Linked DNA regions of Homo sapiens: region 2 is linked to region 1. The links come from fine-mapping of genetic effects on gene expression. Tissue or cell type: monocytes after LPS. Region 1 holds a variant in brackets; the other region holds the start of a gene. All regions are shown on one strand. Distances are from middle to middle.

Region 1 (5,916 bases):
TGGCTGTCACCTTGTGGTACTCAGTCTCTGGAATGCTGCCTGGTCAAGATGGGGTTAAGGGCACTTACTTGATCATCTGCGGCACAGTGACCTTGGAATTTTCTTCAAATGCGTTCATCATGAGCCCATTGCATCGGATGTTATCCACACACTGGAATCAGAGAGAGGACCCCAGGGTCAGAGCTCTCCATTCCTGGACCCAGGCCCACCAGGAGCTCTGCCAACTGTAAAGTTCACATGCCTCAGTCTGATACAGGGTCCTCAAGCTTCAAGGGCATTGTCCTGGCAAAGGCAGGGTCAGCGTGGCGCATCCTTTAGACTTTGGCCGGAAGTCAAGTCTCAGTTGAATGACCTTGGGGAACTTACTTGACCTCAAGTCTTAGTTTCATTATATGCAAAGTGGGGATAATGACTTCTACCTCACTGGGTTGATTACAAACAACCACTGGGATGCAAAATGAATGCATCTGACACTGACCATTCTGTTGCTGACCTCTGGGGTCCAGTGTCAAGGACAAGATCAGATCCATGGTGATGTGGGATCTCTCTCCTGGGAGGCCAGCCCAGCAGGGCCTCTGCGCCACTGCACGAGGGTGCTGAACTGTTCTCTCTGTCCTCTGACCACCACAGTGCCAACACTTGGATGCTGTGGATGGTTTTCCATATGAAGAGTCCATGGGTGTGGGGCCCTGGAGAAGGCAAGGCTGCTGGCGGGAGGGGCACAGATGATTGTACATTTCACTCGGCCTCCAAAAATATTCAAAATCCAAATTTTGCTTTGAATAGGAAGTACCCGCCCAAACAAAAATAAAAACTGCATCTCTTGGGGGAGCTGCCTCTTTTCCCCTGCACTGTCCCCTGCCCTGGGTCTTCACATTTCTGCCATGAGAGGGTTTCTTCTTGGCATAGCGATAGGGAAGGCTTGGTGGCACATCACAGAATCTTCTGGTTTTGAGAATGTGTGTGTTGCAGGGAGGAGGGTGTCAAAGTCATTGGGAAGTGGCAGCTGAGAGCTGGCACAGTGGGTGGTGGAGCTCCCAGGCCCAGACTTCTGGGCAAGGCCACGACCCCAAAGAGGGAGGCTTCTGTCATTTGCATTTCTCAGCCCCACTTCTCCCACCCATCTGACAATCTCTCTAGCTTTGGTTCTACCAGCAACTCCAAAACAAAGAAGACTTGGCCATGGGCTCAGAGTGTTATGGAGGCAGGAGGGCTTGGGGAAGGGGCCAGAGGACTCCCACCTTGACCCCTTCACTGGCATCCACAACGGCTGCCAGGAGGGCAGAGGCCTGGTGGGCACCCTCTGGGCAAGCAGCCCCAGGCCTTTGACGGCTGCGGCTCACTGGGGATGTGAAAGGGCAAAGCTCAGGGTCTGCAGTTTTCTCTAGGGCTTTCTGGGTGTTTTGAAGACATGTGGGAAGACTCAGAACAGGCACGTGCCATGCATCATCCCACCCGCCTTACTCCTCTGGGACTGCGAGATGGGCAGGTGGGCCAGAAGGAAGGCTGGGAGCGGCAGTCAGGGGAGCCTGGAAGGGGCACAAAACCAAGAAGGTGGGGAGCAAGCAAGGGAAGCCGTCCTAGGTCCCACGAAGATGCTGCCCTGCCCTTTCAGTTTCTACAGGCACAGGCCTCCTGCAACCCTCTAGACCATGGGGGGCCACCAACCTCCCTCCCCTTCTGCTGTTGGCTGCTCTCCTACCACCCCACCCCGCAGAGAGGATGGCCAAGGCTCCCAGCTGCTGGGATGGCACATCCCTGACCCATCACAGGCCCTTGCTGGGCTCAGGGAGGGGCCTGTCCTGGGGCCTAAACCCCGGTGCTGCTGACAGCCTCTTTATAGACTCAAGTCTCACCCCTTGTACTTTAGGCACCCATGGGCATTCTGGGTCTGCTCACTGGTGCCTGGAAAAGTCTGTGCTTCCTGCTTAATGCTCCAAATAGGGTGAATGACCCTAATGCTTACAGCAGGCCAAAGCAAAACTAAATCTTCCGTGTGCATAATTGAGGCTGGGTTTGATCTTAGGTAGCTGCCCCGACTCACTGAAGAAGCTACCCTTGGCTTTCAGGGACACCGTTCTCTCGCTGTGAACATTATTACATCTAATATGTTCAGACTTTTCTGTGCGTATCAATGACCTGGGGCATGTACTAAAATGCGGATTTACAGGTCACATGCCAACAATTTAGATCTGTAGGTCTGCAGGATAGTGGGGAAAGGGGAGAAGGGTCCAGGAAACTGAAGTTTTTAAAATCACCTTGCTAGGTGATACAGATGCAAGAGGGGTTTCCAGACCACACTTTCAAGGTGACCCAGGGGACTACAAACGGGATGGACTAGCTGAGCTCAGCTTTGGGTAGGGCTGTGGACTTGGAAGATTCTTGCATCTTTCTCTGTAGAACAGTGCAGCTACTCCACCACCCCCACCCCCTACCTGCCACCAGCCAAATCCCTGACCTGGTTAGGCATGAAGGGACCACTCGCTTTCAGGAACAGGTGACGCTACTCACCTGGCTGATGTCACTGGTCCACGCTGCCTTCTCCTGTCTGGACGAGGCCACTAGGATGACTGTAAAGGGCGGGGAATCCTTTGGCTCCACCCCGATTTTAAAATCCAAGTGATCTATGTCTTGGCCGGATCCTTTGGCTTCCAGTTGTAAAACATAAAGTTAGCAGCATGAATGTG[G/A]ACGCCTTTTCAGGTGGAAAATGTTTTAGTGGTCCCTGTCGTACGTACCAGTGGAGGCTCTGCGTTGGTAAGGCACCAGGCCAATTGCTGCTACTTTCAGAATATTATTTTCCTAAGTGGGAAATCCCCATTTCAAAGATGGAAGAACTAAGACGTAGCTTACAACCACTCAGGGGCAGTTCCGGATTCAGAGCAGGAGAGCCTTTAGGAATCACAGTCTGCCCTCTGCCCTCATTACACCAATGGAGGTGAGGTCACGGGCGAGGACTTGCCCAAGGCTCCCAGCAGGGTGGTGGCCAAGCCAGGGCAGGGCTAGAATGGGCCTCTCAGCCAGGCCCTCCTGCTACCCCAAGGTGGTTCTGGGGCCAAATGAGGAACTTCAAGGTCTTAAACTTTTATGGATTGGGCTGGACATTTAGTTCAGTTTAGAGCTCCCCAAAGCAAAAGTGAATTCTAGGTATTTTTGTTACTGCTCTTAACCTGAAAGTCCCTTGAAGTCTTGAAAGCTGTTTATTTGGAAAAACTAAAACCACAGCTTCAAGATTCTTTTCAATGCACTCACATTAATTAGGGGTGCACTGAATGGGTTCATGGTGTAAAGGGCCTGCTTTGGTTCTGCTTTGCTCCAAAGCTCTATGGCTGTGTGATGTTGAGGTGGTTTCCTTCCCCCTCTGGGCTTCAGATGTCCTCCTGTGCAACAGGAGTGGGACTTGATTTCTCTGAGGTTCCTGTCCCTTCCAGTTCTGACACCTGAGAATTTTAGGAGTCCTTGCTGGGCACGAGGGAGCCCATTCTCCTGGGACTGTGCTGGAGTCTCTGAGAAGTGGGTGCCTGTGTGTGGGTGTGTTTCAGGTGGGGAACGCTTGTGGCCAGGATCCCACCTCCCTGGGCCTAGGAGGGTAAAGAGTTTTGGGGCCTGACAGTGCCACTTGAGCCTGGGTTTTCCTGTGGACCTGCTGTGGCCAAGATGAAAGAAGGCTGCACTGGTAGGAAGGCTCCAGGTAAGCTGCCTCCTCGTTTATTCTTCCCTTGGGGAACCACTTGATTTGGCCCTTATTGGAAGGGCATGAGGGGAGCAGAACCCAGTGGTAACAGGGGCTGAACAGGGTGTGTGCATGAGGGCGTGTGTGTGTGTGTGTTTGCCAAGCGTGTGTGTGGCAACCCCCAGGCCCATGCCCATCCCCATGCCATGCTGGGCCTGTGATGCTGAGGTGCTTCAGACACAGCCCACCCCAGGAGGCCCAGTCTGAGGAGGGAAAAGAGCACGGGTCCTGCTGGTGTCCCCACAGGGCAGGGCATCCAGAGACATCTCTGAGGGTCTTGGCTTGGGGTCAGTGAAGAAGGGAAATGAGTGCCAACTTTGGCCCAATCAAGAGAGAGTAGTGATCCCACCCCCTAATCTGAATAATGACCCCACCTCCAATTCTGATGCCTTGGGAGATAAATCCCATCAAACATCACAGCACCAAGGACTCTGCCCTCCGCACACTTCCCCATTCAGCCCCATTTGAGTTGTTCAGCCCCTTCTCACCGAGGTCTTGCCTCCCCTCCTGGCCCCTGCAAGGGCATGGTTCTCTCTCTCAGGACCCTCAGCCCTGCAATCCCTCTGTCAGTGGCCCCTGCACATTCTTTCCTTTTCCACTGCAGGACAGAGATAGGGCTGGGTGTGTCCCTGGCTTCCAGCACATGGCCCCAAGAGCCCTTGTGCATGTCACACACAGGTGTGTGAATGAGGGGTGCTCACTGAGATGCTGTGACCCCAAAACCTAACAGTGCCAACTGGTCCAGCAGCCCAGGGAGCTTGGAACGAACCAGGAAGGTGGATCAGGGTCATCACCTGCCGGGCTGGGAGCTCTTTCTTTAAAGCCTCAGGCTCTGGCCTCTCCACACCTTATTGGAAGTACAAGGGGAGCAAAGCCCAGCTGTAGCAGGGACTGAACAGGGTGTGTGCATGAGGGCATGTGTGGACCTCCCCTCCGCACTTCAGCATCCTCCATTCCTCCCAAAGAAACTAATGCCTGGCCCAACCTTTAGGAGTGAGCGTGTGTGTATCTGTGCAAGCACACACATGCGCACATGCAGCTTTCACACTCACCTTCCTCCTCCGTGCTTTCTGGCTCCTCCAATAAAGTGCAGTCAATGAGGGATATGACTCCATTCTGAAAAAGAGCAGCAGGGGCTGCTTTGGATTGAGGGGTAGATATGCTGGTTTAGGAGTCCCTGGATGATAGGGTTGGAGGGGACTTTAACAAGGAGCATCCATGTATACACACAGATGTATGGATGGATATATTATATGCCAAGTGGGTATTTTGCTTTTTCAGTGGAAGGACTTTATCTTCATATAAGAAGCTCAATGAAGTGGGTCAAAGGAGATTGTCTCAGAGAGGCCTTCCCCAAACCAAGGTTGAGTTCTGGCCATGGGTGGAGCGGACAGAACCTGGCCTGCTTGGCCCCTTCTTGCTTCCACAGCAGCTCCAGGGCATCGCTTCATAGCCCTAAATCTGCAGAGGTTTGAAATCCCCCGTTTTAGGCCAAAGCTATCAGGTTACCCACAGGAAGACAGAGGCTGGTCTTATGGGTATTGTAATTCTCATTTTACAGGTGAAGAAATGAAGACAGAGAAGTTGCATGTCTTGTTCAAGGTCCGCTGGCAAGTTAGCAGTGAGTCTGGAGAGAGCCTCAAGGGCCCGATCCCAGTCCTGGTCAGTTACTTATTTTAATTATTAGGAATACCTGGAAAAATGCCTCCCATCCATGAGTGTGGGAGCATCTCTTGGGTAGGAGGTCCCTTAACATTGTAGTGAGAAATAAGAGTGGCCACAGCTGTGGTGGTTGTAAGACATGTTCACAAATTCTTTCACATTTTTCTTTTCAAAAGGCAAAGCCTAATTCCCTTCCTCTTGAGTGTGAGCTGGACTTAGTGGCTTACATCTAATTAAAAGAATAAATCAGAAGTGATGGTGTGCCACTTTGGAGACCACATTCTCCTGCTTGCTCTCTTGCTGTCTCTTGCATCACCTGTTGTGGGGGACACCAACTGGCATGTTGTGGGGAGAGGTCTATGAATGAGGAACTGAGGCCTCCAGCCAACAGCCATGGAGGCATATCATCTTGGAAAAGGATACCCCGGCCCCAGTTGAACCTTCGGAACACTGCAGCCCCAGCTGACATCTTGACTGCAAACCCCTGAAATGCCCTGAGCCAAGACCACCCAGGTAAGTAGCTC
Region 2 (5,230 bases), 72 kb after region 1:
TGACTAGTAGTGTTCTGGGGAAACAGCTCTGAACATGAGTGCATCTCATCAATTAGTTTTGCACTGATGTTCCTCCCATGATCTACTGCTAGGATGATTCAATACCTGGGCCAAGAGTTGGATGATTTGAAATCAATGTAGGGTCTCATTTTCAGGAATTCTTAGGCATTGGATGAATTCTAGGTCTGATTCTGCCACTGATTTACCCCGTTGTTGGGTAACTCCCTTTCTTTGCCTCTCAGTTTCTTGGTCTGTAAAATGGGAAGGCTGTATCTCTGAGGTTCTGTTCGACTTTAACATCTGGTGACCTAAATAGCTCTGTCCAGGTGGGTATAATTCAGATTCAACTGTGATTCGTCTAGATCTAACTAAAATGTATTGGGCGCTTACTTTCATATACATTATTTAATGTAGGGCTCTCAAAACCCCAGAAAGGTAGGTGTTATTATCTTCATTTTGTAGATTACAAAATGGAAACTCAGAGAAGTTCAGCAAGTTAACTGAAGTCACACAGCCAGGAAGTCATACAGCTGAGATTCAGTCTCAGGCCTGTCTGCCTTCACGTCCAGGGGGCTGAGAACAGATAATATGAGCCCATGCCAACTTGGCTTCCCCCACCCCTCACTTCCTGCCTACCCAGGAGCTCAGCTCTGTGATCTAGTGTAGTGGGTTGAGGGATGGAGGGGGGATCTGGCTGGGGCTGGGGCTTGGGCTGCAGGCCCCGGGTAGGTATGGGTATATGGGTAGACACTGGCTGGAGAGGGGCAAGTTCTGAAGGGCTGAGAGCAAATTCTCTAGTCTGGCCTGGGACTGGCTCTTCCACATGAGTTCCCCAGGCTCCATTTGAGCTGAAGCTTAAGGAGCTGCCTGCTCTTTGCTCTTCTTTCCATCTGGGAGCCCCTGCTCACCACATGGCTTGTCATCCCCAGGGACCCACCCTCAAAAATTCCTGTCCACACTTCCCAGTCCTCAGAAACTATCTCCTAACACCCATTGGCTGAAGGTAGGGAAGGAAGAGATGTGCTAGAGAGACTGAGCTCGGATCTCTGTCCTGACAATTGGGAGGAAGACTTCAAGCGATGCTTTTATTTCAACCAATTCAATCACCACCAGTCTGTGTCTTCATGCAGCAGTGGCTTTTGAGATCTCGGTTGTCTTTTCAGAACATTGGGACGGCCTCAACAACTTGCATGACGCTGGGCAAGTGAATTTCTCTCTCTGGGCCTCAGTGTCCCCATCTAGGCAATCACCAGCCGTTAGGCCCTATGGATGGAAGGTTCCTGCCTGCAGTGGCATTTTAGGATCCACTATCATCTGCTTTATCTTCCTAGTGGCAAGGGACTGGACCAGATGCTTTTGGAAAGCGCACCAAGCTTAAAGGTGGCTCTCTCTGCAGGTGCCCCTCCTCCCTTCACGCCAGAGGCTCACCCCCACCCCGCCCGGGCTCCCTGTTAGAGCCAGGCCTGGCTCTTCAGCCTTGCAGCTCAGGAAACCAGAGCGCAGCGCTATAGCCGCGACTGCGGCGGCGGCGGCGGCGCAGGGGGCGGGGGAGGAGAGAAGCGCCCACTTCGTCCCGCTGCCTCCGCAGCAGCCCTGGCCCTAGCCCCGGCGCATCAGAGCGGTCCTTGGGAATCTTTGGGCTTGTTGCTCCGGCGGCCGCCAGCTGGGAGCCCACCACCGCTCGATGGTACCGAACCGACCCGTGTAGCCCCATAACCCCAGCCCAACTCCGAGGAGCTAGCGCAGACCGCTCTCCGCCCTCAGCTGCGGCGAGGCAAGGGCTGGCAGCGCTCGGACGCCTCCGTCTTGCCCTTCCCATGCCTAAGCGCGGGGAATTACACGTTCCCGGTGTAGAACAGACGATCGGGGCTATTAGGGCTGGGCGGTGGGAGTGGGGGTTGGGAGCACCATTTTTGGCTGGACGTGTGTCCAGACTCATCGTCTCTGGTCCTTAGGACCCCATCTTCCTCTGCATCTCCAGGTGTCGGCCCCTCTGTACCCGCCTCCCACGGGGCTCGTCCGGCGAAGGGCAGCCGCAGCCCACATCTACTCCCCGCCCTCAATCCCTGCCCCCTCTGCCCGCCGCAGTCACTCGCCTGGCTGGGAGCAAGCCTCCCCTCTCGCTGAGGGTGCAGAGAGCGCCTAGGGCGCCAAGAGTAGAGGGGCCAAAGTTCAAGCGCCATCAGCCAGCCGAAGGCCCTGAGCCCCCAGGGCCGCGGCCGGGACGCAGGGAGGTCAGGACGCGACGCTCGCCTCACCTGTTTCTCCAGCGGCTCCTTGGCCGACAGCGCCGGCTTGGGGGAGGGCGCGCGGTCGCAGACGCAGCCCTCCAGCAGGTAAAGCCCCGAGGGCCGCGAGCTCGAGTCGCTCTCGAAGTAGAAGAGCAGGTTCTGCAGCAGCGCGAACCACTTGGTTTGCCATTTTGTGTTGTCCGAACTCCGCTTGCTCAGGTAGCCTTTGCGCGTGCCGTCCTTGCGCGCCAGCAGTCCCAGGGACGCGACGTGGCCATCATTCAGCCGGATCCCCTTCTGCATGGTGCTCAGAGGCCAGCGAGACCCCACGCGCTTACATCTTCTCCGCGCAGCAGCCCCCCGTCCGTGCGCGCTGCGCGCTGCCTCTCTCTGGCGCTCGCTCGCTCGCTCCCTCTAGCTCTCCCCTCCCCCCAAATATCTACACTCCAGGATCTGGCGCCGAGCCGCGGCTTCTTGAATCCAGATATACCATTCCCCGCTGGAACCTCTTCTCCGCTCCGCAGAGCCCCAGTACCCGGAAGATGCCGCCCGACCCTCCTCCGGTGCCGGGCAAACTGAGGGACTGGCGATCTGCGCGCTGGCGAGGGGCAGGCGGAGTCATGTGACGCCGATCCCTCGAAGAGCCCGTTTCAGCAGCGCGGACAGGGACACACGCACGCAGCCCCGCCGAGGCGCAGAGCCGCGCGCAGGCTGCAACTTGGTGCCTCCTCCCCCTCCCCAGACACACACACACGCACACGCACACGCACACACTCAAACCCTGCCCTCCCTCCCCTCATCTCCCCTTCTCTCCCTCGGATGTTAAAAAGCAAATCAGATCAATTTTCGTTTAACCCAATGAAACCCCGAAGGCTCGCCATCCCGGGAGTTTGCGTCTTTGCGCCCCACCGCGGCGCACTGTAGACCTGGGGTTAAGTGCCAGTTGTCATTTTCTCCTCCAAAGGCTCGCCCCCCCCCCCCACTTTATTTCTAATACGAGGTGGAAGGAGGAAGGTGGGTGGCGAAATAGAGCTGCAAAAGCGTCCAGTCCTAGTCTTTGCATAGTCAGCCGGGTCACATTGAATTCCAGCATCCGGCTGCACTCCCGGCGGCTTCCCCAGCTACCTGAGGACAGTACAGGGGGTGAGATGGGGTGGTGGTTGGTGAACGTTGGTTACTTTATTTTATATTATTTTATTTTGAGAGTTGCCATAATTACCGGCGCCACCCCCCGTGCACCCTGAGGTCTGGTTGGCGAGCCGCTGCTGGGAGTTTTCTGCAAATACCCCCCAAAGCCTGAAGGCGGGCTTCAAACGCAGGCGCCGGGGACCATGGGAGCCTTCAAATAGCTGCGCTGGCGCAATGATACCTTAATGATAGATTTTCCGTTCTTATTTTTAGCTCTCATTCGCCTACACAGTTACACGGCATTTATCCGAGAACGTCACAGCGCCCGCATGCTGCACCGGGAGGGCGCGCGGGCCGCCGGGCGAGCCGGGAGCTGGGGCGGGGAGCGCGCATCGCTGTCTGCCGCAGAGGGCAGCGAGCTCGCCCCGACCCGGAGCAAGCCGCGCCTGGCCCGGGCGCTTTGCAGCGGGGATGGGTGCCCGCGCAGCCCTGTGAAGGAAAGACACCATCTTTCCGCACGGAAACTGCGTATACCCCTCCCCCGACACACACACACACACACACACACACACACACACACACACACACCCCACACTCACACACAGCACACACCACACACGCACAGATACACACCACACACCACACACCCACACACCACACACACCACACACACACACCACACACACCACACACACACACCGCACACACCACACACAAACCATACACCACACACACCACACACGCACACACACACGCCACACACACCGCATACACAAACACCACACACCACACACACACACCATACACCACACACCAACACACCACACACACACCACACACCCAAACACCACACACACCAAACACACACCACACACCCTACACACACACCACTCCCCACACCCCCCCACACCCCACCACACACACGCCACACACACCACACACAGACACCACACACATGCCACACACCACACACACACCACACACACACCACACACCACACACACACCACACACATGCCACACACCACACACATACCACATGCCACATACACACCCCCCACACTCCCCCACACCCCCCGCCACACACACACACAACCCACACCATACAAACACCACACACTACACACAACACCCCCACACTCCCCACACCACACACCACACACCACACACACTACACACACCACACCCACATACCACACACACCCCTACACACCCCTACACACCACACACACCCACACCCACACATACACCACACACCAGACCACACACCACACATACCACACACACCATGCACACCACACCACACACACCACACCACACACACACCACATAACACACCCCTCCCACAGACCAAACCTGGGCTGCACACACACACGCATCACACCTCACACAACACATGCAGCACACCACACACACATACACACACACATACACACACACACCCTAGTTTGGAGCCCTAGGGAAGGGCTTGGAAACCAGGCAGCCCTGTGTAGGTCACGGAAGAATCCACAGAGAAGCTCTGCTGTGGAGGAATGGAGCTGCCCCTGTCCTGAGCACAGTGAGGCAGGCCTGTGTTCCTGGAGTGGGAGCATTTTGGGGGAGGAACTGGCCTTGTTAACCTTAGTCCTCCCTCTAGTGCCATCGTTCCAGTCCTAGGGACCCCAAGGACTCAGTGGTGCTGATTTTTCTTCACAAATAATGAAAATAGGCTAGATGGCTAAGCCTTTTCATTCAGTCTTAATTTTCCCTACACTATCACCATCTTTTCTTCTCATTTGCTCTCTTCATGGAAGCAGAGTTTGCAGGATTGAGGTTCTTAATCTGGCCTTTCTTTATCTAAACTCTTTTATTCGGAAGTCTGTTACAGAAGCC

Which allele goes with the higher level. Alleles are on the strand shown, and positions count from the first base shown. SD is a standard deviation of normalised expression in the study named.
For the expression in monocytes after LPS of the gene that starts at base 2,816 in region 2, A is the high allele of the variant in region 1 and G is the other (moderate effect, 0.65 SD a copy in Quach 2016).

Evidence for each region. PIP is the estimated chance that this variant, and not a neighbour inherited with it, causes the effect.
Region 2: RASGRF1 starts here. The variant in region 1 is fine-mapped to the expression of RASGRF1 in monocytes after LPS (Quach 2016, PIP 0.95).

What each region holds. Positions count from the first base shown.
Region 1 is chr15:79,015,259-79,021,174 of GRCh38, forward strand. It overlaps RASGRF1 (Ras protein specific guanine nucleotide releasing factor 1), which reads right to left. Exons shown (of 27, transcript NM_001145648.3): 11 at 4,783-4,846; 12 at 2,512-2,648; 13 at 69-151. Among named protein-coding and RNA genes, the nearest start is that of RASGRF1, 73 kb to the right of the region's middle. The variant G/A (reference allele first, on the strand shown) is at 2,688.
Region 2 is chr15:79,087,965-79,093,194 of GRCh38, forward strand. RASGRF1 (Ras protein specific guanine nucleotide releasing factor 1) reads right to left here and starts at 2,816. Exons shown (of 27, transcript NM_001145648.3): 1 at 2,259-2,816. The coding sequence starts at 2,534.